Homo sapiens: one gene and its partners. The protein of the gene in region 6 binds, or shares a complex with, the protein of the main gene of each other region. Each region holds a gene or a part of one and is shown on either strand. Other genes may lie near its edges. The genes, in order: RBMX2, PLRG1, PPIL2, SNRPG, SF3B2, CWC22 and SNRNP40.

Region 1 (3,500 bases), on a different chromosome or scaffold from region 6:
CGTGCCACTGCACTCCAGCCTGGGCGACAGAAACTTTCACATGCTAGGAAGTGGGGAATGTGCATAAGGAGAACAACCTTGGCAGCAGCATGAAGCAGCCACTGTCTAGGCCTCCAGGAGAGTGCCTCCGAGAAGCCAACTTGGATGTCTGTCACCTTTGATATGTCGAGTGGCTGTACAAGGTAATTCCCATCCTGAGTTACCTCTTCAAAGACCTTATCTCCAAATACAGTCGCATTCTGAGGTGCTGAGGGTTAGGATTTCACCATATTAACTTGGGGAGAGACACAATTCTGCCCATAGCACCAGCCTTCCACTGATACTCCCTGCTTTCCCAATTAAACTATGCTTCCCCACACCTTCCCCTTTCACACTTGAGTTGATTATCAACTATCAGTGAATGCAAGGAAGAGCAGACATTAAGACCACCCAGAATCTTCTCTTAAGTCTTAATGCTTTACCTTTTTTGTGCTTTTTTGTTGGTTTTTCATCTTCAGAGCTCTCAGACAAACTTGGTGAGGGGGTACGAGCCCCACAGCCCTTCTCCTGGAGTTGTCTGGTCACATCATCTATTTCTTCTGAGTCCTTAGGAGCCCGATAGTTAGACACATGATCCACTCGGATAGTTCTTCCTTTGATCTAAGCAAGACAGGCGATGCTTCAGTGAAGACAGCCCTCATACCAAACTGTCAAACTATTTGAACACAAGCTACAGAGAACCATGATTTGAACTACATCCTTTACCTTCTTGTTAAATTCTGTCACTAAAGCAGACCTGTCCAACTGGTGTGTCATAGCATGTACACCTAAATATTAATACATTCAGCTCTCAGTGCAGCCAGATGAGGCCTGGGGCAGTTGTACCAGCAGCCTCATCACTTTACTCTGGGGCAGCATACAAATATCTTCATGTTCTGTATGTGCCATAAAATGAAAAAGACTAGGAAAACTACCTCAAAGCACAAGCATCAGGGAAGACTGAGATTTAGATGCACAATGAATCACCCTTGATCTGTAACCTAAGTTTACAGTGAAACATACCCTAGGAAGGTCTGGCAACTAGAAGGAATTCTTGAAATCTAGCTTAATGCTACAACTGCTTTCTCCACCCAGTAATTAGGAGGCAAAGTCAGACCAATAGTTTGGAGGGAGAAAGGAATCAAGAAAAGGGCACTTGCTTTTTTCTTAAGCCCTCACACCTTGCTCTAGCCCCACCATACTGGAACAATCAGCTCACGCTGATTCTTGCACAACGAATCACATCTCTCCAGATGAACAACAACAAAATATTAACCCCTCTGGCCGGGCGCAGTGGCTCACACCTGTAATCCCAGCACTTTAGGAGGCCAAAGCGGGTGGATCACTTGAGGTCAGAAGTACGAGACCAGCCTGGCCAATATGGTGAAACCCCATCTCTACTAAAAATACAAAAATTTGCCGGGCATGGTGGTGCACACCTGTAATTCCAGCTACTCAGGAGGCTGAGACAGGAGAATCACTTGAACCCAGGCAACAGAGGTTGTGGTGATCCAAGACCACGCCACTGCACTCCAACCAGGGCAACAGAGTGAGACCCTGTCCCCCTCCCCCACCCCCCAAAAAATTAACACCTCACTTAAAATAAAAATATTCTATTTTTAGGCAGATACAGACTTACTCCCTAGGCAAAGTCATCCAAAATTTAAAGTTTGGCTTTTATTGTTCCAATACAAGAGCAGATTTTTATTTTTACCTTAAGGCCTAAGTGGCTTCTGTCATGTATCCTCTTCTCCATTTTGAAACACTTTGGAAAACCTTCCTTTTACAGTGATGCCCTCTGACTGCTGGCTTCCTTAAACATCAAGCCTAGAACCTTGTTCCACTCTGTTCTATAATCTCCAGCTATTCCATACTCGTGAATCAGTGACAAACTCTCCAACTCAAGCCTCCCCCCACCAACTCTGTGACACTGTTCAACTGCAGCTCTTTTCCTAAATGAGTGCAGCAACCACATGGAGCATCAATAAGCCTGACTTGCGCTATCTCCTTCTAAGAACTCAGTGCCTCACTTATGACAGTGGAAATGAGAGGGAACTGGGGGGAGAAAATTTCAGGATGAAATTACTTTTGTAGAATCTGCCATCAGATTTTAACTAGAGAATTTCTAGGGCCCAATATGCTAGGTCACTGGAGATATATGACAGACATACATGGCTATGTACTAGATTATGAGGCCATGATGAAGCCCAAAACCCCCAACACACAACAATATGGAAGAGCAATGTTTGCTAGTCTCTTCATCCTCCAGTACACCAGAGATGACAGTAGACAATAAAAGAAAGGTGAAAAACAGAGGCCTGGATGAGAGGCAGGCCTGGTGCCTATGCTCCTGGGGAGATGGTTTGTTAACAGATGGGGAAAAGAAGCAAGTCCTGCAGGACCATGAGCCAACAGAATTATTTCCTGGAATCTCTTCTTGACCAGTGTCTCCACATCTCTGCAGCCCCCGCAACACACCAAGCTCACAAGTGCTGCCCTTGTGTCTGCGGGAACCAGGTAGAAAACGAAACCCCTATACATGGGAAAAAAGTCCAACCAACCTGCTTAATAAGCACACTCACCTTGATCCCATTAAAATTGTCGACGGCCAGAATTGTGCTCCTCTGGTCTTCATAGCAGAGGAAACAGAATCCTTTGGATTTCCCAGTTTTCTTGTCCCGCACGAGATTAATGTTAACAATCTCCCCATATCTATTTATTTTATAAAAGAGTAAGACACTGTTGACTTAAAAGGCAAAAACATGCAGATAAGGTAATAAAACAAAATTCAAATAATATAGTGTATACAAGAGATGCATCTAGAACAAGATGACATAGAAAGGTTGCAAAGAAAAAGTCAGACAAGAACAGGAACCCCCAATTAAAAAATGGGTGGCAATATCCAGAGCAAAGACTAATTCAAGGCCAAAATAAAAATATCACATGAGACTAAGAAGATTATTTTACACTGAAAAAGGCCTAAATACACAACAAAGGTATAAGCCAGGAAAACGTTATGAGCCAATTAAGAAATCAAAAATTTTAATTAAAAAAGCTATTTGAAATGCAAAAAGAAACTAATAGAGAAAGTTATGGGAGAATTTAACACATCACTTTGAAGTTTATCACGCACAAAGTGGACAGAAATAAACTAAAATCAGATTAATTAATATACATAATTACTCTGTTATAATAACAAATATTAATGTAGGACTATTAGATACATAGATATCTTTGAATCCTACAAGATGACATTTTCAAGAATCCATGAAGCATGTATTAAAATTGACTATGGATTAGGTCTCAATGTAAACCTCAATAATTATACTACAAAAAACAGAACAGACCATGTTTCCAGTTATAATGTTATAAAGCTGGAAATGATATTTTAAATAAAAAAAAGTTACCTAACTAGAACTTGAAAGCTACTCTCCTAACAACAGCATGAAAGAGAAGACGAAGCAAAATTAAAAAAAAATAAA
Region 2 (2,948 bases), on a different chromosome or scaffold from region 6:
CCCAAAGATGCATGGTGCCATTGTCAGCTTAAAGGGAAAAATCTAGTTACACCTGGTATCCCCTCAGCAGTACAGCTTGACAAACATTTATGAAGCATCATTAGCCCAAGCATGGGAATACTACGGTTATAAAAATACATAAGACACAGGCACTCCACCTTCTCTTAATATTGGTTTGTCTACTTTCATTTGGGCTGGGTTCAGAACTTATAGATCTTAAAAAGCACCTGAAAATCTGACATCCAATTCCAGAATAATAAACAAAATTTTAAGCAATTCCCAGCATAAATCCCTGAGATTCATTAGATGGGAACTCAAAGAGGACTAAGCTATGAAATATACTACATGTAATATGAATATGCATGAACACACATAATAACATGCAAATATGCCCTAACCAGGCAAGTGCTGCTATAATACTTAAGTGTGACAGCTTAGAAGCATTACAAATGTTTATTCATCATTAAAAGAAAAAATAACAGACTAAACATATTTATTATAAAAATCTTATTTTACCTCCAGATACAAGCACTCCATCAGAATTTACCGTCAATGTGTTAATAATAGCATTATGACCGGAAAGATTTTGAATGAAACTTCCATCAGGGAATTTCCACTGCTTTATGTTATCTGGAGAACCAGATGCAAATGTGTAACTGAAATAATATTAAAAAGAATTAACGACAAAGTAAACCAAGTTAAATAAAGTGGTGGGTTTTAAAAAGTTTATTTCAGTTATATTTTGCAGTGTGTACTCAATGATTTATATATTCAGCAAAATAGTCGTATCAAAATGTAAAAATATTAAGACATTTGTTCAAGGTTAAATCAGACCTTCACATTTTTAACAGTATATTTTAAGTCCTAGATTAATGTTTTGTTCTCCTTTCATTTCCTTAATGCTCTGCACTAAGCCAGAGCAATAAATGTGCAGAAGCCCTATTTCACATGAAGGGCAATGTGTTATGCAACTCTTTTGGAGGGAGGGAGAGCAAGACAGGACAGGAAGAAAGAGAGAAAAGGAATAGAGGGCAAGAGGAAGAGAGAGAACAGGAGGGAGGAGAGGCGAAATGGGAGTGAGAAAGATAAGCAAAGGAAGGAAGAAGAGAGGGGGAAAAGGGTATGGAGAGTAGAAGACAGAGAAGAGGAAAGGAAGGAGAGGAAGAATCCAGAAAAGTGTCAGAGTGATCTGATACACCAAACAATAGTTGTGATATTATGCTCCACCTTTTTGGATACTCTGACTGTAATGTTCACGGTTCTTATTATTTCTGTTTCTACATATATTAACTTCCTCCTTAAGAATTAAACTATTCAATGAATGTCTCAGTGTCCAAAATCATTTATGTCCAAAACATTAAGCCTAGCCACTAATATCTTTTATTTTGACATGCAGCATTTAATCATGATTTACACTGTCTCATTTGACATTATTTATTTGTTATCAAGTAGAAGGCTTTCCTCATGTTTTATAGGGCATGAAGCAAAATAGTGCATGAGGAAAATAAAAGAAACACACGTTCCTATGCGGCACAGGCCTAGAAATGACAGCAGCTAAATGACTGCCAAAAGCAGTGCTAACACCACTAGCATTTCAGCATTATCTTAAGAACTGAAGAAAAACAAGAAGCTAATTAGGAAAATACACTTACTGTCTTGGATGTAAAACCACAGCCCTAACTGATTTTTTGTGATTTGTTAATGTCACTCTTGTTTTTCCAGCCACCAGATCCCATAATCGAATTGTAGTATCATGGCTTCCTGTAATGGAAACACATATATCCCTCAAAACATAGACCAGGAAAAATAATGCAAAAGTTAAATAAAATACAAAGCATTCTTCCAAAACACATATGTTCTAAATGAAAGTCATATCACACGCAAATTAGTCTTGGCTAATTTCTTCATAGTTCCAAATTTTTAGGTTGATTTTAATTCTTTAAAAAAATGCAATACAACAATTGATTCACTGTCAATTGAACAGCTAAAACAAATGCAAATAACAAATAAATATATAATTGTATACCCTAGTGAAAAGGAAAAAACTTCAATGATTTTTTTAAGTTAATAAAATACATCAGGCAAAGGAATTATTTTCTAGTATTAAAGATCCATTGTTACTAACTTTATTTAGAGCAAAGTAAGATTCAAATCAGTTCTAAAGATTACTAGTCTCAAGATGTTTTGTCTTCTAACTTCAATTTCTTAGAAAAATAATTTTGACACTATAAAATAATAATTGTTCATAACACAGTATTCTAGTCAGACATTACAGGATACTATGTATGGCATACTCTATGATATGTAAAAAGCATGAGGTAAAAACAGTGGAATGAAATTTCATTTGAATACATTTCAATTGTCCATGATTAAAATATGACACAGAAACACTGTAAACACAATACAGAGCAAGAGTCATCATGAATATTAAAAGTATATGTATAATAACATGGATTCTGACATGAATATTCTGTAAACTTGAAAAGTATCGATCATACCTGTAATAATTTGTGGTTCTGCAGCCTGACATCTCACTGTAGCAACTGCATTTGTATGTCCAGATAATGTGTGTACACTGGCTTTAGTTCTCACATCCCAAATCTATAAAAACACAATAGACATATTAGGAAAGAGAATAGGTATTCATTATCTCAAGAAGATAACTGGATCAATTCAAGGCTGAAAATTTACTACATAACTAGTGCCTGAATATAATAAAGAAAATGCTTAAGTGAAAGATAATGATTTACAAACTGGAGGACGAATATAAATAGGAGACAACTTGCAAGAATTCTAAAAAGCTAAAAGATCAGGGTACTGAAAATCTAAGAATGAGTATGATGGGACTACTTTTTAAGACTACTGAATGAAAGAACTAATGGACAATAGTTGTTACAGAATGGAACGTGAGAATATCACATTTCAGGGGCAGGGCACTAATAACACTA
Region 3 (3,500 bases), on a different chromosome or scaffold from region 6:
CATAGCATCTCCACAGGCAAAAGACCTGGACTAGAACCTAGCACAAGATCACCACCTGGGCAGGGGTGGGCTGCACAACTCATCCGGGCCTCTGGCCACAAGAACAGCGGAAGGTGTGTAATGGGCATGAAGCAGGAGCCGCAGCACTGGGCTGGGCTCTATGAGCTGTGGCAAAGAAAAGCCTAGCCCAAGAGCTACTGGACAAATCCCTCCAGACCACCCACATCCCCTACTCAGCTGCCGCCTTGGTTCCCAGCATGAGCAACTTCTGCCTCCAACAACAAACAGACCACAGCCTCAGCCAGAGGGGGCCCATGCCCTGCAGATCCAACTGTGCCCACAAAGGCCACTAGCAGCTTACAATGGCCTGATCGCCTTTGTGGGAAGTTCCCAACACCACAGGTTCTGCCCCCAACCTCCCCCACCTTAAAACTACCCAGACCTTTGAGAAGAAATCTTGTGACACCTTTTTTTTTTGAGACAGAGTCTCGCTCTGTTGCCAGGCTGGAGTGCAGTGGCACCATCTTGGCTCACTGCAACCTCTGCCTCCTGGGTTCAAGTGATTCTCCTGCCTCAGCCTCCCGAGTAGCTGGGACTACAGGCGCCCGCCACCATGCCCGGCTAATTTTTGTATTTTTAGTAGAAACGGGGTTTTACCATGTTGGCCAGGATGGTCTCAATCTCTTGACCTCGTGAACCATCCGCCTCGGCCTCCCAAACTGCTGGGTTTACAGGTGTGAGCCACCGTGCCCAGCCCTGTGACACTTTTTGCGGAATTAAAAGCAGGTGTCTAGCTTGGTCAGAAAGCAATGACTGATTCCGTATGAAAACTGGTGAGAGCTGGGCCCTTGGGTCTGCAGGTCAAGCCCAGAATTGGCTGTGATAGTTCCACTCACCCTCACTGTTCTTGGAAAAGTTCAGCTTGATCAGGGACCTCCCGTCCAGCTTCTGGAAGAAGCACAGTTAATAATTAATGATAATGAATAAGTAACTGATGCACAGAGATGCTAGGGTCAGAGACAGGCAGGAAAAGTCTCTGACTAGGCCAACCCTGTGCAGCTCTGGACAAAAGGGAAGGCCCCAAGACCCTGCAAGGACCTCACGGGGGCTGCAGGATGGCGTCGGGCAGTTGTGTTTATGTGGCACCCCCACCACGCTCTGAGAAGAGCCGTCACGGGTGACCCCGAGCAGGAGGACCAGGCCACAGGGTGGTGTGTGTTATACTTCTGCAGGGTTTGGACGTCTTTATGGTGAGCACAGATTACTTCTAAAATTAAAAAGTGAACATATTTCTTCAGCTAGAGTGGTGGGACACACAGAGTCCCTCTCTGTCACCAGGCTGGAGTACAGCGGCAACATCTCAGCTCACTGCAACCTCCCACTCCCTAGTTCAAGTGATTCTCCTGCCTCAGCCTCCCGAGTAGCTAGGACTACAGACACACGCCACCACACCAGGCTAATCTCCTGACCTCATGATCTGCCCACCTGAGCCTCCCAAAGTGCTCTGTCATATGAATATTTAAGAAAAACAAAACATTAAAAGTGGGGAGAAAGTAAGAAATACACTCCAATGCTAAGAATGGTTGTGTTGGGAAGATGGGACTCTATTTTTCTGTTTCTGGATGTTTTTTCTTTTTTCTTATTTCCCCTACCCCAGGTGGCAGGTAATGTTTTCAGTTTCTGTGGTGTGTCTGCAGTACAGCTCTTCCACAGCAAACTTTCCCATAAAACAAAGTCTGGACAACCGGAGGTGGGAACTGCTGGGGGCGGGGCTGTGGGGAGACCCTGGAAGGGAGGCAGAGCTATGTGCTGCTGGGGAGCACCTCACTCAGGGCCACAATCCAGCAGCTGCTGCCACCTGGTGTGGGCTGGGCCCAGCTATGCCTACCCAGGCCCAGGGGAGACACAGCGGGAGCCTCCTGGGGCTGGGCCCTAAGCTGGCAGCAGGTCCTTAAGCTGCCCTCCCCGCCCTCCGTGGGCCCTGCCTGCTGCTGGCCAACCCAACTGACCGCATCTGCTCCTCTAACCACCTTCGTTCCTTCCTTTGTCATTCAACTACCCCCACCTCCCTACATCACTACAGGTGTGGAGGAGACCACCAGAGGGCCAGCAGGGTCCCTATTCAGACACAGGACCTGAGCAGAGAGACTCCCCAACACAACAGGCTCCTCCTGAGCCCCCAAAAGTCACATGGGCCAGCCAGCCCTTGGCCCAGGAACTCTCCTCAGAGGTTTGGCTAGCAAGGCTCTGCTGACACCCATAGGTCTGGCCAAGCAAGCACACAGCAAGGTCCCTTCCAGAGCAGGCCAAGGGAGAGGCGCAGGCACAGGATAAAGACGTGTAGGGCGCTCCTGCAGACTCACCCCAACATGATGCCTGGAACAAAGAAATGGCCACACCTCCCTGATGTAAGCCCTAACAGCGTGGCTAACTGCCAGATCAGACTTTGTGGGTGTGGGGGCCAGCACAATCGACAAGTTTGGGAACCCCAAAGAGTACCTGTGAAGCAAAACACCCAAAGTAGCAAAATGCATCCCAGCTGCAACCAAATGACAGAATCCACTGGGACAGCAGGGGCCATGAGGGCAGCTGTGGACAGGAAAACCCCACCTACCCCCACCTTGCCACCAGGCTGCTCCCTGAGGCCGACACCCAGCCACACAGGGCACAGGCAGGCAGCAGGGACCTCTGCTGAGAAGAGCAACAGAGAATGACTTCCCAGACTGGGGCACGGACCTTGGGGGAAGCCCCTGGGATCCAATGTGGCTCCCAGCAGCAGACATCACAGAAACAGTCTTCAAGTGACAAAGACCAAGGAAGAAGAGTGCCCTCCCTAAGGAGGTGAGGCCACAAGCCCCCTACCCAAGCATTTGAAAGAGAAAAGCCACGGGCTTTAGTCGCTGGTCCAAGAACACTCAAAAACCAGCCCCCTGGCCAAGTTCCCCTTGTACTGGAGAGCAGGGAAGCCTTGGAGGAGCACCAACTCCATCTACAAAGAGTCCCCAGAACCCTGCAGCCCCCAGAACACCACAAGGGCCAGAAGAGCTGAGACAGATGGGCTGCCAGCTTCTCCTGCTGGCCCGGTAGGGAGGGTCATATTGTCCAGGGAGCTCCCTCCCAGCGGCTCCAGCACAGGGAGCCCACCGGAGTCCCGACCCTCCGTCTCGCACAGTTTGAGCTCTTGCCCCAGGCCATAGGAAAGAGGTGGAGGAATACATGCAAGTAATTCCAACAGGAAGGGCAAGGTCACTGGTAAAATACACTAGATCTCCCTCGGAACCAGGCTGCATAATGTCCCCACAAAACTGATGCTCACTGGGAACCTGTGAATGTGGCCTGACTTGGATATAATCAAAGGTTTATATAGGGTCTTTGCAGATAGAATCAAGTTAAGACGAGGTCACAGCTATGGCCCAAGAAAAGACATGCACATATATACACGTGCACAGGCCGGAAGCATTTCTGGAAAAGAATGGGTGTGGGGAGAGGAGGGGAAGACT
Region 4 (3,500 bases), about 110 Mb from region 6:
AGGCTAATAATTAGCAACTCTTACCACTCCTTGGAGGTCTTTATGCTTAATAATTTGCTAAAAGTAAGTTGTCCTTTTTGGTTCACCTTTTTCAAGAACTTTGGGCTTACCGCTTTATTAGGTATGTTGTCCTGTGTTAGACAAAGAGGGACTCAAAGTCTGGGTATCAAAACTCTTCTTCAGCAATCACTAAAACTACGGCCCAATGAATGTAGGAATGTTTAATCCTATGAGGGCTCAGTATGTGCTTATTTTTTCCTGCTTTTTCTCTCATGTGAATAACTGTCATTGTGATTATCCCTTGTAACTTTTACCTTGGCTACCTTAAAATTTTGGGTGTGGTAAACCAGAAAATCCAGGTTAACTATGTATACAAGTAAAATCAGAAAGTGTTACCTGTGAACTGGCAGATCTGCATTAGGCATTAGTAGAAATGCAAAACCTTAGTTAAGTTCTGCCCCATACCTACTGAAGTAGAATCTTCATTTTAAGAAGATTCCCTGGGGATTCATATACACATTAAGGTTTCAGAACTACTGCTCTAATGAAGGACCAACTATGAGCCTCTATTGCAGAATAAAGCTCAAAAAGGATTTCCAACAGCTATTTCAAGCGCTAGGACCTTAGGTTCTGTATAGTTGAGATCTTACCTACAGGTAACCAGGATATTACTACAGCTGAGTAACTGCCGTATGCAACTAAAAAGGAGATGGAAAGTCTAATCTTGCCTGTTATTTGCCATTTCTGGGGGTTACTAACCAGGAAAGTTAATACACATTCCAAAAGAAAAATGAAATCTCCAAGAGAACTCTTGTATCTTTACTTACCACCATTCCAATATTGTTCTGTTGTCCACTAGTCGCCATCTCCACACATTCATCTATCACAAGGTTCATAAAGGGATCAAATCCCCGCAATATTCCTTGGACATGTCTGCCACCATTTAATTTCACTATTAAAAAGAGAAAAAGAAGTTTTAGAAAAACATTCCATTAGCTACCAAGCATTCACTAAAAATCAGGTGGGATAAAACACAAGTATTTGAGATGTCTGAAACCCACTATCCTTACTGTATGACAAGAACTGGGTTAAACATTTTTGTATTTACTTCCACATTTTAATTTATAAGAATCCTAAAAAGTAGTATTATCCTTACTTTATAGGACAGAACTAAACTTCAGAGCTTTTTTAAAATTTTTATAAAGATGGGGGCTCCCTATGTTGCCCAGGCTGGTCTCGAACTCCTGGGCTCAAGGGATCCTCCCGCTTTGGCCTCCCAAAGTGCTGGGGGATTATAGGTGTAAACCACCGTGCCCGAGCTTTTAAGTAACTGGGTTCATGGTTATACAGCTACTGTACGACAGAAGTGAGATTCAAGCTGAAGGCTGCTTACCTCTAACGCTCATGGTTTTTTCCCCTACATATATTTCAAGTACTGTGTGGGTCAGATTTTTAGATAAATTGAACAAATGTTATTCCTACATATTCCCAAGAAACAAGATAACTGTTCCTTGTCTAAGTCCTTTGTAGCTTGTTTAAAGAAAAAAGGTTGATAAATCCTGTTAATTTTGCCAAAGTGAGGAAGGGCTTACATAAGATAAAGTCTGAAGTGCTGTTAAATTAATTATCAGAAATTAGGTAAATAAAATTGTCTAGTTAGGATTAAGTAATCTGCTTAACTAACGGATGTGAATTAGAGGTCCTGTGTGCTTTAAATTTTTTTTTTTTGAGACGGAGTCTAGCTCTATAGCCCAGGCTGGAGTGCAGTACCGCCATCTTGGCTCACTGCAAACTCCGCCTCCTGGGTTCATGCCATTCTCCTGACTCAGCCTCCCGAGTAACTGGGACTACAGGCGCCCGCCACTGCACCCGGCTAATTTTTTTTTGTATTTTTAGTAGAGACGGGGTTTCACCGTGTTAGCCAGGATGGTCTTGATCTCCTGATCTCACGATCCGCCTGCCTCGGCCTCCCAAAGTGCTGGGATTACAGCCGTGAGCCATCGCGCCTGGCTGCTTTAAATTTTTATAAAGTTGCTCCAAACATTGCTAAGACACATGTAAAAAGCAATTAAATAATTAAAAAAAACCCCAAAACAACAACAAACTTACATGATAACTTCTTGTCCATAAATCTGAAAAAGGAAAAGGGTAAAGATTATATAACCAATTAAAAAAATTTAAGCATAAACAAGTAAATAGGTATAGTTAAGATAATTTGCTAAAATTTATACAATGGGAATAATGAAATCTAAAATAGTAAAAATAATGTATTGCTGTAAAGAGTGAGGGAGTAGGGCGAGGTAGCTCACGCCTGTAATCCCAGCACTTTAGGGGGCTGAGGCGGGTGGACTGCTTGAGCTCAGGAGTTGAGACCAGCCTGGGCAACATGGTGAAACCCCATCTCTACCAAAAATACAAAAATTAGCTGGGGGTGGTGGCACATGCCTATGGTTCCAGCTACTTGGGAGGCTGAGGTCGGAGAATCACTGGAGCCTGCCACGTTGAGGCTGCAGTGAGCCATGATTGCGCCACTGCACTCCAGCTTGGGCAATAGAGCGAAACTGTCTCAGGGGAAAAAAAGAGTGGGGGCGTAAAGGGTTACCTAAATTAGACATTCTAGGAAGCAAAGTAATTTGGGAAGAGGAAAGGCAATAAAAATGAAACATATTTAGACTATATTAATTTACATTAAGTAGAGTATACTAATGTGAATTACATTCTTATTGTTCAATACTACGTTGTTTCATTGACCTAAATTTCTTTCTTTTTTTTTTTTTTTTTAAGAGATGGGAGTCTCATTATGTTGCCCAGGCTGGTCCTGAATTCCTGGCCTCGAAAAATATACTCCCCCTCAGCCTCCCAAAGTGCCGCTGGGATTACACAGGCATGAGCTACCACATCTGGTCTCATTGACCTAATTTTCAATGACTGGATTTTATAGTCACAAGAGAAAAACAAAGACTTGCCTATGTTTGGTTATTTCCAAAACTAAGTTGTAAAGACAGCAAACAGTAATCAAATCATATCCAATTCAATAGGTATTTTATATTTGAAATAAGTAGTGTTCTTTTATTTAATATTAAAGCATCAAGCATAAATGTTCAGGGTAGTCCTCAACATTTAAGTATATTTTAGAATAATAAATGCACATTTGAAACTTCAAACGATATGAATTAAAAAAAAATTCCATTTTAGTGGAATACGAGATTAAGCCATGCAGTCAAATCAGTTTTTAATTTCTTCCATATAGGCCAGAAAACATAAAATTTCATTCAATTTTAAAAATTTCATTCAAATTTTAAAATATAAAAAAATGAAAAAAAGATGTTTAGTATATGGGCCACGAAGTGGGGCACTTATTCAATTTTAATGTATAGGATTATCATGGGAAAATGTAAATATAAAACAAGGAGCATGACTGAAGGAGGGAGTAGATACATTTACAAGTAAAAATATATTTATGGGCTGGGCGCGGTGGCTCATGCTTGTAATCCCAGCAC
Region 5 (3,500 bases), on a different chromosome or scaffold from region 6:
AAATATTGTTATAACTGCATTCCACATGTTCAAAAAGTTAAGAGAGAAAGAATAGATTTAAAAGACCCGAAATCAAACTTCTAGAAAGGAGAATTATATTGTATGGGATTACTGTTAGATCAGAAATTACAGAAGAAAATAATAGTAAACTTGAACATATAGCAATAGAAATTTTCTAAAGTGAAATACAAAGAGAGAAGAATTTCTTTAAAAATGAAGAGCATCAGTGAGCTCTTCATTTATTTTTTCATTTATTATTTCATTAATAGAGGAATAATTTGAGTTCCCAAAGGAAAGAGAAGGGAACAGAGAAAATATCTGCAGAAATCATGACAAAATTTTCCCCAAATTAATAAAAACTAAAAACCCAGATCTAAGATGCTTAAAAAACCCCAAGCAAAGAAACATTCAGAAACTACACCAAGGCACATTGTAGTCAAATTGTTAGAACTAGTGATAAAATCTTAAAAACAGCCAAATAAAAATGACACATTATGTACACAGGAACAAAGGTAAGAATGACAGCAGTTTTCTCACTAGAAACAATGCAAGAAAGAAGACACTGGAGCAACATCTTAAAAGTACTGAAAGAAGGCTGATGCGGTCACTCACACATGTAATCCCAACAAGCTGGGAGGCCAAGGCAGGCGGATCACTTGAAGCCAGGAGCTCGAGACCAGCCTGGCCAACATGGCAAAACCCCATCCCTACTAAAAATATAAAAATTAGCTGGGTGTGATGGTATGCACATGTAATCTCAGCTACTCGGGAGGCTGAAACAGGAGAATCGCTTGAACCCAGGAGGTGGAGGTTATAGTGAGCCAAGATCACACCACTACACTCCAGCCTGGGCGACATAGCAAGATTCCATCTCAAAGAAGAAAAAAAAAAGTGTTGAAAGAAAAAAGATTGTCAACCTAGAATCCTAAACCTGGCAAAGATCTTTCAAAAATGAAGGCCAAATAAAGAATTTTTAAGACTACTCAAGCAGAACAAATTCAAAACCAGCAGACCCACAATACAAGAAATGTTTTTTTAATATTTTGTAGAAATGGGGTCTCACTATGTTGCCCAGGCTGGTCTCAAATTCCTGGAATCTAGCAATCCTACCACCTCAGCCTTCTCCCAAAGTACTGAGAGTACTGAGATTACAGGCTTAAGCCACCACGCCCCCTAACTTAAGAAATGTTAAAGGAAGCCCTTCAGGCAGAGGAAAAATGATATCAGATAGAAACCTGGATATACACAAAGAAATGAAAGAAACAAAAATGGTAACTACATGGCTTCATGCATGATTCTTATTTAAACCTCCCTAAAAGATAACTGACCATTTAAACAAAAATAATAACTATATAGTATAGGATTTATAACATATGTAAAAGTGAATATATGACAATATAGTGCAAAAATTGGGAGGAGAGAAATGAAGTATACTATAATGGCTCTTAATACTATCTGGAAGCAGTGTAACATCAAGAGAAGGTAGATCCTGATAAAGACATGATCTATAAACCCCAGAGCAACAACTAAAATAACAAAGCAAAAACTTAACAGCTAATTAACCAACACTGGAGATAAAATGAAATCATAAAAATTGTTCAAGTAATCCAAAAGAAGGTAGAAAAACAGGAAAAAGGGAACAAAGAGCAGAATGGATAAAGAGAGGGTCATTTCATGATAAAGGGGTCAATTCATGAAGACCTAACAACACTACACATTCAACTACCTAAAAATGGAGCTTCAAAATACTAGCCCATCCCTGTCTCAGTGCCTTTGCACTTGCTTGCATTTACTGTTACTTCTGACCCAGATGATCCTGTGGCTGGCGCTTTTTCATTCGGGTCTTAGTTCAAGCACCACCTCCCCAGTGAGGCCTTCCCAAAGGCCTCCCTGCCACCCCATCCCATTACCCAGTTTCCTCTGCTTCAACATCCTTATCTACATCTGAAAGTATCTTGTTCTCTGATTACCAGTTTACCTCAACTGCTGACTCCTCACTGCCTACAGTAGTGCCTGGCAGAGAGTTGGTTCAATAATTGTTTAAAAAAGGATGAGGGAGAAAGGAACAACAGTCAGCCAGCCAGCCAAAGGGAAGTGAAGGTCCTCCCCTCTCAGCCCTGTCTGGTACCCTTACCCGTCCATCGCCTCCTCAATCTTCTTCTTCCTCAGCTCAATGAGTTCAGGGGTCTCCATTCCAGCAGGCACTGATGAAAAGCCTCCAGGAGTGATAAGGCCACTGTAAAGAGAGGAACAAGCTCTGGAGTAAAGAGAAGGACCCCAAAGATAGCCCACTTCCAAGAGGCATTCTCTGCTTCCCCCACCTGTCTGCAGGGGTAATAAAGCCTGTCTCATCTGGTTTGTCTTCATCACTTTCTTCCTCTTCCTCTTCTTCTGAGGATTCTTCATCAGATGGTTCCAGTTCCCCCCAAGGGGTCCGATCAATCTCTTCTTCCTCAGTCTTGGTCTGAAAGAGATCACTTTATCATTCAACAAATGTTTTCTAAGTACCTATTATGTGCCAGGCTGTTTTAAGCTGAAGGGGTGTAAGAGTCAAAACACAATAATCCCTACCTACCTAGAGCTCAAATTCTAGTGAGGAGCTTACATTAACATCTCAGGAAAATGTATGCCCTTTTCCAGGCTCTGCTGTGTCAGAACACACAACTCCCTGATAATGAAGCTATAAACCAACAATCTAACCTTCATGACATTAAGTAAAACCAAGATCGCTAGTACATGGCCCATACCTGAAATTCAGCAGCATTGGTTCCAAACACGTCCCCATAGAGCGGTTTCCCAGTCTCATCCACTGGAGGTTTGCCCCAGCCACCAGCATGGTACCCAAAGGAACAGCTCTGCAAGACAGTGAGCACAATCAGTTCACTCCTTAGCTGCAAAAGAAATTCTGAAGCCCTAGAGAAAAGGCACACTCAAAAGTACAGAGCTGATACTTGGGAACTCCGGAAATTATGACTGCAGAATTAAATCAAATGTTATGAAGCATTAGAAACCAAAATTAATAAACAACTAAAATCTGGAGGCAACAGGATAAGGAGACAGGAGGCAGAAAGTATGCTAATAACTTCTGTCATGGCAGAGTCTTTACTGTCTGAAACCAAAATACGTACATTGAAAACATGACTTCAATTTCTTATTGAGTTTTCCTAACTTTGGAAAGCTAGCTTGTTCAGAATCTATTTATCTTAAGGGGCAGAAATTTCTATCTAAAATTTAACAATACTACTGTTTTACTTTAATGACTCATCAATTTTTTTAATGCTTATTTTAAAATAAGAAATTTGAAGACATTCTTGAGATAAAATTATTTCTGAGAGACTGAAGTGAAGCTAAAAAAAAATTATTTCTTTTTTCTTTTTTTTTTTTTTTAAAGTAGAGGTGCGGTTTCACTATGTTGCCCAGGCTAGTCTTAAACCCCTGGCCCCAAGGGATCCTCCCACCTCAGCCTCCCAAAGTGCTGGGATTACAGGTGTTGAGACACC
Region 6 (3,500 bases):
GATGTGGTTCATACTTATCATGAATTTAGAATTTTATAATTAATGTAATTAGCATAAATGACTGTGGAAGCTGTCAGCCAGACCCAAGCCTGTAAAAAATGATGAGTTTAACATAGATTGAGGTTTTTATTTTATTTACAAAATTTTTGAACTGTTTTAAACCCTTATTTAAAAATGCAGGCAGTCACTATCATACTGGTAAATTATACAATATTTAGTCTCTTTGTGTTTTGAATCATTAATGTATTTTTTTTCCCAAATAGAAAGAACTCTGCAACATGATACTTGATTGCTGTGCCCAACAGAGGACATACGAAAAATTTTTTGGCTTATTAGCTGGGGTGAGTTCCAGCCTCTACTGAGGGAATTCTTAAAACGAATATTGTAAATTAATGATTTCTGCTTTATGGTCTGGTCTCATTTAAAAACATATTACCACTTTTGCTAAAAGCAAATTATTCTCTCCTTCCTCAGGTTTCCCACTCTCTTCACCTTCCTCTTTTTCTACTTCATTTTTGCAGTGCTTTAACTTTGCATATCACTTTTCCAGAGCTTTTTGGAATTTTCCATGATTTGTAATGATTTCCCAATAGACGACAAGTAAATGCTGTCTTTTCAAAATCTCAAAGCAGTGTCTAAAGTCAAGTACATGTTCAGGCAGCACAATTAAAGCATGATCTAAAATATTTCTTTAAGCTCTACCCTCATGTGATCACCTACATGTATGATTTTGTTTTAACATGTAAATCTCAGGTAATTAGAAACCATATATATTAACTTCTTTTTTGAGCATCATATGGCACAAAAGGATTTAGTGATATATGCTCTTTGAAAATATAAAGCATATTAATAAAGTTTTGATTCAGTAAATTTAGGATTTAATATGCTCATAATTGTATTAACATTCAATTTTTAATGGTACTGATTTTTTATTTATTAGCGATTTTGCATGCTAAAGAAAGAGTACATGGAATCCTTTGAAGGTATATTCAAAGAACAGTATGATACCATCCATCGCTTGGAAACAAACAAGTTGCGAAATGTTGCTAAGATGTTTGCTCACCTTTTATACACTGATTCACTTCCATGGAGTGTAAGTACATGGGTCAATATTTATACTTCCTTCCTAATTCCCTGTTCTCAAATAGATTTTCGTATAAGCTAGCCATATTTATCCTATTATGAAATGTGCTTTAAAATGAAATGTGTAGAACTGCTGTCTTTGAGATTATCATCATGTTATAAGGAATCAGAAAGCTAGGTAAATAATATACAAGAAATACTATCTTTGTATTATATTAACAGTCCAAACATGCCAGTGTTTCGATAGTGATGGCTAGGAGTGTCTTCAGGAAAAGTACTGCAGATTTTCATCTTCTCTGTGTACACACACGTGCATGCACACTCACATCCACATATGCCACTATTTTGGTGGTAAATGTGTCTCTGAATTACTCTCCCTTGATTCCTGAGGGAATAACTCTCCATGGTTCTCTTGTTGGGTTTGAGAAAAAATGATTGTTCTAGAAGGATGTGTTCTTTTTAGCAGACATTGAAGTTGGGTAAGCTATAGAGAGGATATCCTATAGTCATAGAACAAAGAAAGATATATTCTTGATAGGGAAATGTGCACTGGATTGAAATTTGAAAGGCGTTCATTAAGCTGGCATTGATTTTACAGCTGTTTTTCAACCAGTGTTAGTTAGCCACCACTTATATACTGAGTCATTGAGAGAGGTGCTGTGTATTCAGAGTGAATTATACATGGCCCCTCCTTTCAAGAGGGTTACAGTATAAGACCAGAGGTAAGATATGCCCATAGCAATGATACAAAATAAAAAGTCTTAGATTCTAAGAAAAGCAAAATTACTAAAGGAATTTGAAAGAAAGAAAGAGAGAAGGATGAGAAATTACATCCAGGAGGAAAGAACAGGATTATCTTGTAGAATGCCATCCTACTAATGGTAGAATGAGGCAATATCTCAAACTTAAAAACATTGGTTAGATTTTTATAGTACTTTAAGTACCAAGTATGTCCAGCTACATTAATAGGCATTCGTAATCTAACCTAGGAGACTAATTGTAATAATTTTTGACTTCTTTTTTCCCCTCTTTGAGAAAATGAAGTGAGAATTTTAAACAATTAACCAACTAATGGGCCCCCCAAACACATAACCCATAAAAACTAGAGGTTACTTTTATTTTTATTTTCCCTAAAAATATTTCTTTAGGCATTTCAGTTTTTAAGCCACAGTCTTAATATTCAGAATAAACCATTATACTTTCTGTCTTTTTTTAAATCGTATGTTATGTGTGCTAAACAAAATTGTAGCCTAATGTGCTAAGTGGCATTTTGCCCCAAACCTTCATATACACCACATTTTGATGAGTAAGGTTTAGGAGCTAGTAATCTTTACCATTATATGCTCAAGAGAGGATATCTTCCCTGCTATAAAAAGCACATTACTCAAAACAGAGAATGAAATCTATTTCTGTCGCATCTTAACATTTTGAAAGTTAGTATAGAGAAGTAGTTTTAAACTTTATGTCAGCATAAGGGGAGATATTCAGAGATAACTCTGGTTGAAGATGGGAATAAATAGTAATTTTGAGAAACACTTAAACCTACAAATATTGGTCACTATGTCCTGTCTTTTATAAATTAAAATATACTTGTCTTTTTTTATTTTAATTTTCAGGTTCTTGAATGTATAAAACTGAGTGAAGAAACCACTACATCATCCAGTAGAATTTTTGTCAAAATATTTTTCCAGGAACTGTGTGAATACATGGGTCTTCCTAAACTTAATGCAAGATTAAAGGATGAGTAAGTTTGCCATTAAGCACTTTTTATTCTTATTGACCTCTGGTTTTCTCCCATTGTAGCAGACATAAGCCCATCCGAGACTGTAAAAACAAGAGCTAAGCCCCCTGAGACTTTCTTCATCCATTAATCACTGTGAATTTCATGTTATGTCACACAGGACAACATGCAACTTTTAGTGGTGGTTTTTAGTTTAAGTGGAGTTCAAATTAATGCCTTTTTAGATTTTCTTAGAAAATACAGAATTGTTTTTGTATGCTCACTTGAATTCTCCAGTGATATTTATAATTTTATTTTCTTTTTACCCTAATTTTAAGCCTTAGAATGATAACTAATATTATCAGTGGACAGTTTTGAGTATATATTTCATCTATTAATAATTGTTCAAAATATTACATAGAACTAGAGCCTTATTTCAGGATTATTATGTAATCCCCTCTCACCTTTCTTATTTCCTGTTTGTTCAGATTGCCACTTAGGTTGACTTCTACTCCATTGACACTACTGAAATCATCCTTTCAGATTTCTCAGTGACCACCTGCCATATTCAGTTGTCTTTCTCAGGCTGCATGCCTCTTCACTTCTCTGCCTCACTTATGCAGTTGACTACCTACTCACTGTGGCTCCATACTTTCTTCTCACTTCCTCTCTCAGTCTTCTCCTCAGCCTGCCTCTT
Region 7 (3,500 bases), on a different chromosome or scaffold from region 6:
GTTTGTATTCTTTGTCCTGTGTGACCACTGAATTCTTTTTTTCGTTAGCTTAGTGGTCAGCTAGTGAATGACACAAGTTTCCTAAATTACCTACAACAACAAGAACAAAAATTCTCCCAGTCTTTGCAGATTGTCTTTTTGTATGTTGGAGCCTGCCTTCAACTCCTTGCCATGCAGTTTACATCTCTCCTTAGCTTTCACTTCCTGCTTGTGCAGAGCCTGAAGGTGAACCAGAGAGCTTACGGCCTTCTCAGATCTTTTCTAAGTATGTGCCCAGCCCTGGACATGCAAGTGGTCTAGATTGCCAGGAATGGGCCAGGCGTGGTGGCTCATGCCTGTAATCTTAGCACTTTGGGAGGGTGAGGCAGACAGATCACTTGAGGCCAGGAGTTTGAGACCAGCCTGGTCAACGTGGCGAAACCCTGTCTCTACTAAAAATACAAAAATTAGCTGGGCATAGTGGCACACGCCTGTAATCCCACCTACTCGGGAGGCTGAGACATGAGAATTGCTTGAGCCCGTGAGGTGGAGGTTGCAGTGAGCCAAGATCGCACCACCGCACTCCGGCCTGGGTGACAGAGGGAGAGTCTGTCCCTAGATAGATAGATAGATAGAGATTAGATAGATAGATAGACACATAGATACATAGATAGATAGATATAGATGATAGAAAGATAGATAGATAGATAGATAGATAGATAGATAGATAGATAGATAGATAGATAGATAGCCTAGGCGACAGAGGGAGAGTGTGTCCCCAGATTAGATAGATAGATAGATAGATAGATAGATAGATAGATAGATACATAGATAGATAGATAGCCAGGAATATGTCGGTGCTTTTCGAAGCTCTTATTCCCCAAATTGTCTCCTTCCCCAGCCCTTCCTCCCAAGGTTTTTGGTTTGTATTTTTGCCCCAACTGTTTTTCCTTGCCCCCAGGAACCAGAGGCTAATAATGTCCTTTCCTTTAAATGTTTTCAAGGGAAGTTCCAAGTTAGGCAAAATAAATGTAAGTCCTTTGGGCTCATCCTTCAGAGAGCCACCAGACAGGTAAAAATAAACAATTTTTATTGTTTATTCTTTGACAATAAGAAATAGGCCCCCTTTGCTTCCTCAGTACTAGGAAACCATACTGGGAATATGGGTTATCTTCAAAGCTGTTGCTGAGCAGGAGACAGAGCCAGCACAAGTTAAAACACTACAAAGCCCTTTTACTGGGACTCAGGGAGTTTTTTGTTTCCTTTTTCCTCATTAAGGGTTTGCCGGGTTACTATAAACTTTTGATTAGTTTTGAGAGTTCCAACAGTTGATTCTGACAGATTTTGCTGGTTAATTTGCTGCTTTCGTGGAGGGACAAGCTTTTGTCATTGTTTATTATACTATTTTCACTGACATACCCTCTATTTTTTTAAATGTGGGTTGCAGCCTACTAATGAATTAGTCTCTACGGTTTGAAAAAATTGTCTGATATCCTTGTTGTTCTAAAAAATATATGAACTAAGTAGTTAGGGGAATTCCATTCTAAGAGTATGTTGATTTAACTCTGTTCACTTCAACAAAGAAGTCTGAAAATATAACCGAAGTTTTGTTTCACCAGCCTTCAAATGTCTTGGCAAAATTGAGCACACTGCTTACCATGTGTGTTATTAGGATATCCAGGAGTTAGTGATATAGGATCCCAATTATAGATGTGTTCATGTCCACAAAGTCCTCGTACTTAAGGGATATTTGTACTGTGCAATTGCTTCTTAGAATGATGTTGCTGATAGACTGTCTTGTCCTTTGCTTCAGCTTTGGGACATCCGGAAGAAAGCAGCCATCCAGACATTTCAGAACACGTACCAGGTGTTAGCTGTGACCTTCAATGACACAAGTGATCAGATTATTTCTGGTGGAATAGACAATGATATCAAGGTATGTTTGATGTTTATGATATATTTCCATTTCATCTATCTGCACTTAGAAACGAATTTTTTCAAACTTCTGAGATTGTGGTAGCTTTGCACTTAATACCAACTGAAAGGAAAATAGTAACTTGGAACTTATTTTCTTTTTCTCCTGTCTTCATTGACTTCCTAAATTAAAGTTTGCATTGCAGATCTTATAAATGCTGTCAGGGACCAGGCACTTAATGTGAAGTGTGAAGTCTCTGTAGGGGGACTATGTAAAAAATAAAGAGTGCATTTCCTTTTAAAGACATTCAAAATCTTTTTTTAACCATCTTGGTTTAAAGAGAGCAGTGAATCAGTTTGTGATTCTGTATCCTCATCTCTCACTGTGTTTTTCTTTTTGACACTATGGAAAGAGAGTTTTCTAAGTTTCTCTAAGAATGAGAGAAGGTAATGATATTAAAGAGGCAATAGACCATATGGCAGTAGAGTGTAGCTCAAACTTTCAAGTAATTGACTTGGGTTCTAATCCCAGTTTCACCATTTTCTAGTTTTGTGACTTCAAGCACCTTCTTTAAGCCTCTTTTTCTTGTGTGAATGGTGAGGGGGTAATGATAAAAAAAAAAAAAAACAGTAGCATCTACCACATACCATTGTGGGGATTAAATGAGCCTGATTCATTAGAGCACTTAGCAGAATTCCTGGACATAACAAGTGCCAGGAAATGTATTATTTTGGGCCTGCACAGCTTCTGTCTTCCTTTCCTCTTGGCTTCCTTGGGGATCTTAACGACTTTGACCTTACCTTCTGCTTTATAGTAAGAAGAGTAACTGTCAGATACTCAACTTTCTGTGTTGTCCTTACCTAGAAGTTGTACTGTATTTCCATCCCTCATTGTTTCCTTTGCTGTTACTTTGGATGAAATATCCTTGCTTTTGGCCAGGTGTGGTGGCTCACACCTGAAATCCCTGCACTTTGGGAGGCCGAGGCGGGTGGATCACAAGGTCAGGAGACCGAGACCGTCCTGGCCAATGTGGTGAAACCTCGTCTCTACTGAAAATACAAAAATTAGCTGGATGTGATGGTGGTGTGCCTGTAATCCCAGCTACTCAGGAGGCTAAGGCAGGAGATTACTTGAACCTGGGAGTCAGAAGTTGCGGTGAGCTGAGATCACGCCACTGCACTCCAGCCTGGCCACGGAGCAAGACTCCATCTCCAAAAAAAAAAAGAAAGGAATATCCTTGCTTTTGTCTAAAGGTAGTCCTTTTTTTTTTTTTTTTTTTTTGAGTCAGAGTCTTCCTCTGTAGCCCAGGCTGGAGTGCAGTGGTGCTATCTCAGCTCACTGCAACCTCTGCCTCCTGGGTCCCAGTTCAAGCAATTCTCCTGCCTCAGCCTCCTGAGTAGCTGGGATTACAGGCACGTGCCACCATGCCCAGCTAATTTTTGTATTTTTTAGTAGAGACAGGGTTTCACCATGTTGGGCAGGCTTATCTCGAACTCCTGACCTTGTGATCCACCTGCCTCGGCCTCCCAAAGTGCTGGGATTACGGGTGTGAGCCACCGTGCCCGGCCTAAAGGTAGTCCTTTAAATGTGAGGGTTTCAATCCTTC

The links.
Region 1: CWC22 (region 6) and RBMX2 share a complex: the UniProt entries of both Homo sapiens proteins name them as parts of the minor spliceosome.
Region 2: CWC22 (region 6) and PLRG1 share a complex: the UniProt entries of both Homo sapiens proteins name them as parts of the minor spliceosome.
Region 3: CWC22 (region 6) and PPIL2 share a complex: the UniProt entries of both Homo sapiens proteins name them as parts of the minor spliceosome.
Region 4: CWC22 (region 6) and SNRPG share a complex: the UniProt entries of both Homo sapiens proteins name them as parts of the minor spliceosome.
Region 5: CWC22 (region 6) and SF3B2 share a complex: the UniProt entries of both Homo sapiens proteins name them as parts of the minor spliceosome.
Region 7: CWC22 (region 6) and SNRNP40 share a complex: the UniProt entries of both Homo sapiens proteins name them as parts of the minor spliceosome.

What each region holds. Positions count from the first base shown.
Region 1 is NC_000023.11:130,408,487-130,411,986, reverse strand, and holds part of RBMX2 (RNA-binding motif protein, X-linked 2), read right to left. Parts: intron 2,731-3,500; coding exon 2,601-2,730; intron 640-2,600; coding exon 462-639; intron 1-461. UniProt on the Homo sapiens protein: Involved in pre-mRNA splicing as component of the activated spliceosome. As a component of the minor spliceosome, involved in the splicing of U12-type introns in pre-mRNAs.
Region 2 is NC_000004.12:154,537,453-154,540,400, forward strand, and holds part of PLRG1 (pleiotropic regulator 1), read right to left. Parts: intron 2,602-2,948; coding exon 2,499-2,601; intron 1,762-2,498; coding exon 1,653-1,761; intron 657-1,652; coding exon 517-656; intron 28-516; coding exon 1-27. UniProt on the Homo sapiens protein: Involved in pre-mRNA splicing as component of the spliceosome. Component of the PRP19-CDC5L complex that forms an integral part of the spliceosome and is required for activating pre-mRNA splicing.
Region 3 is NC_000022.11:21,672,512-21,676,011, reverse strand, and holds part of PPIL2 (RING-type E3 ubiquitin-protein ligase PPIL2), read right to left. Parts: intron 949-3,500; coding exon 897-948; intron 1-896. UniProt on the Homo sapiens protein: Has a ubiquitin-protein ligase activity acting as an E3 ubiquitin protein ligase or as an ubiquitin-ubiquitin ligase promoting elongation of ubiquitin chains on substrates.
Region 4 is NC_000002.12:70,287,241-70,290,740, forward strand, and holds part of SNRPG (small nuclear ribonucleoprotein G), read right to left. Parts: intron 2,133-3,500; coding exon 2,110-2,132; intron 953-2,109; coding exon 828-952; intron 132-827; coding exon of another isoform or gene 21-131; exon of another isoform or gene 1-20. UniProt on the Homo sapiens protein: Plays a role in pre-mRNA splicing as a core component of the spliceosomal U1, U2, U4 and U5 small nuclear ribonucleoproteins (snRNPs), the building blocks of the spliceosome.
Region 5 is NC_000011.10:66,062,364-66,065,863, reverse strand, and holds part of SF3B2 (splicing factor 3B subunit 2), read right to left. Parts: intron 2,856-3,500; coding exon 2,748-2,855; intron 2,465-2,747; coding exon 2,322-2,464; intron 2,237-2,321; coding exon 2,135-2,236; intron 1-2,134. UniProt on the Homo sapiens protein: Component of the 17S U2 SnRNP complex of the spliceosome, a large ribonucleoprotein complex that removes introns from transcribed pre-mRNAs.
Region 6 is NC_000002.12:179,951,798-179,955,297, reverse strand, and holds part of CWC22 (pre-mRNA-splicing factor CWC22 homolog), read left to right. Parts: intron 1-263; coding exon 264-341; intron 342-940; coding exon 941-1,093; intron 1,094-2,699; coding exon 2,700-2,827; intron 2,828-3,500. UniProt on the Homo sapiens protein: Required for pre-mRNA splicing as component of the spliceosome. As a component of the minor spliceosome, involved in the splicing of U12-type introns in pre-mRNAs. Promotes exon-junction complex (EJC) assembly.
Region 7 is NC_000001.11:31,279,789-31,283,288, reverse strand, and holds part of SNRNP40 (U5 small nuclear ribonucleoprotein 40 kDa protein), read left to right. Parts: intron 1-1,792; coding exon 1,793-1,915; intron 1,916-3,500. UniProt on the Homo sapiens protein: Required for pre-mRNA splicing as component of the activated spliceosome. Component of the U5 small nuclear ribonucleoprotein (snRNP) complex and the U4/U6-U5 tri-snRNP complex, building blocks of the spliceosome.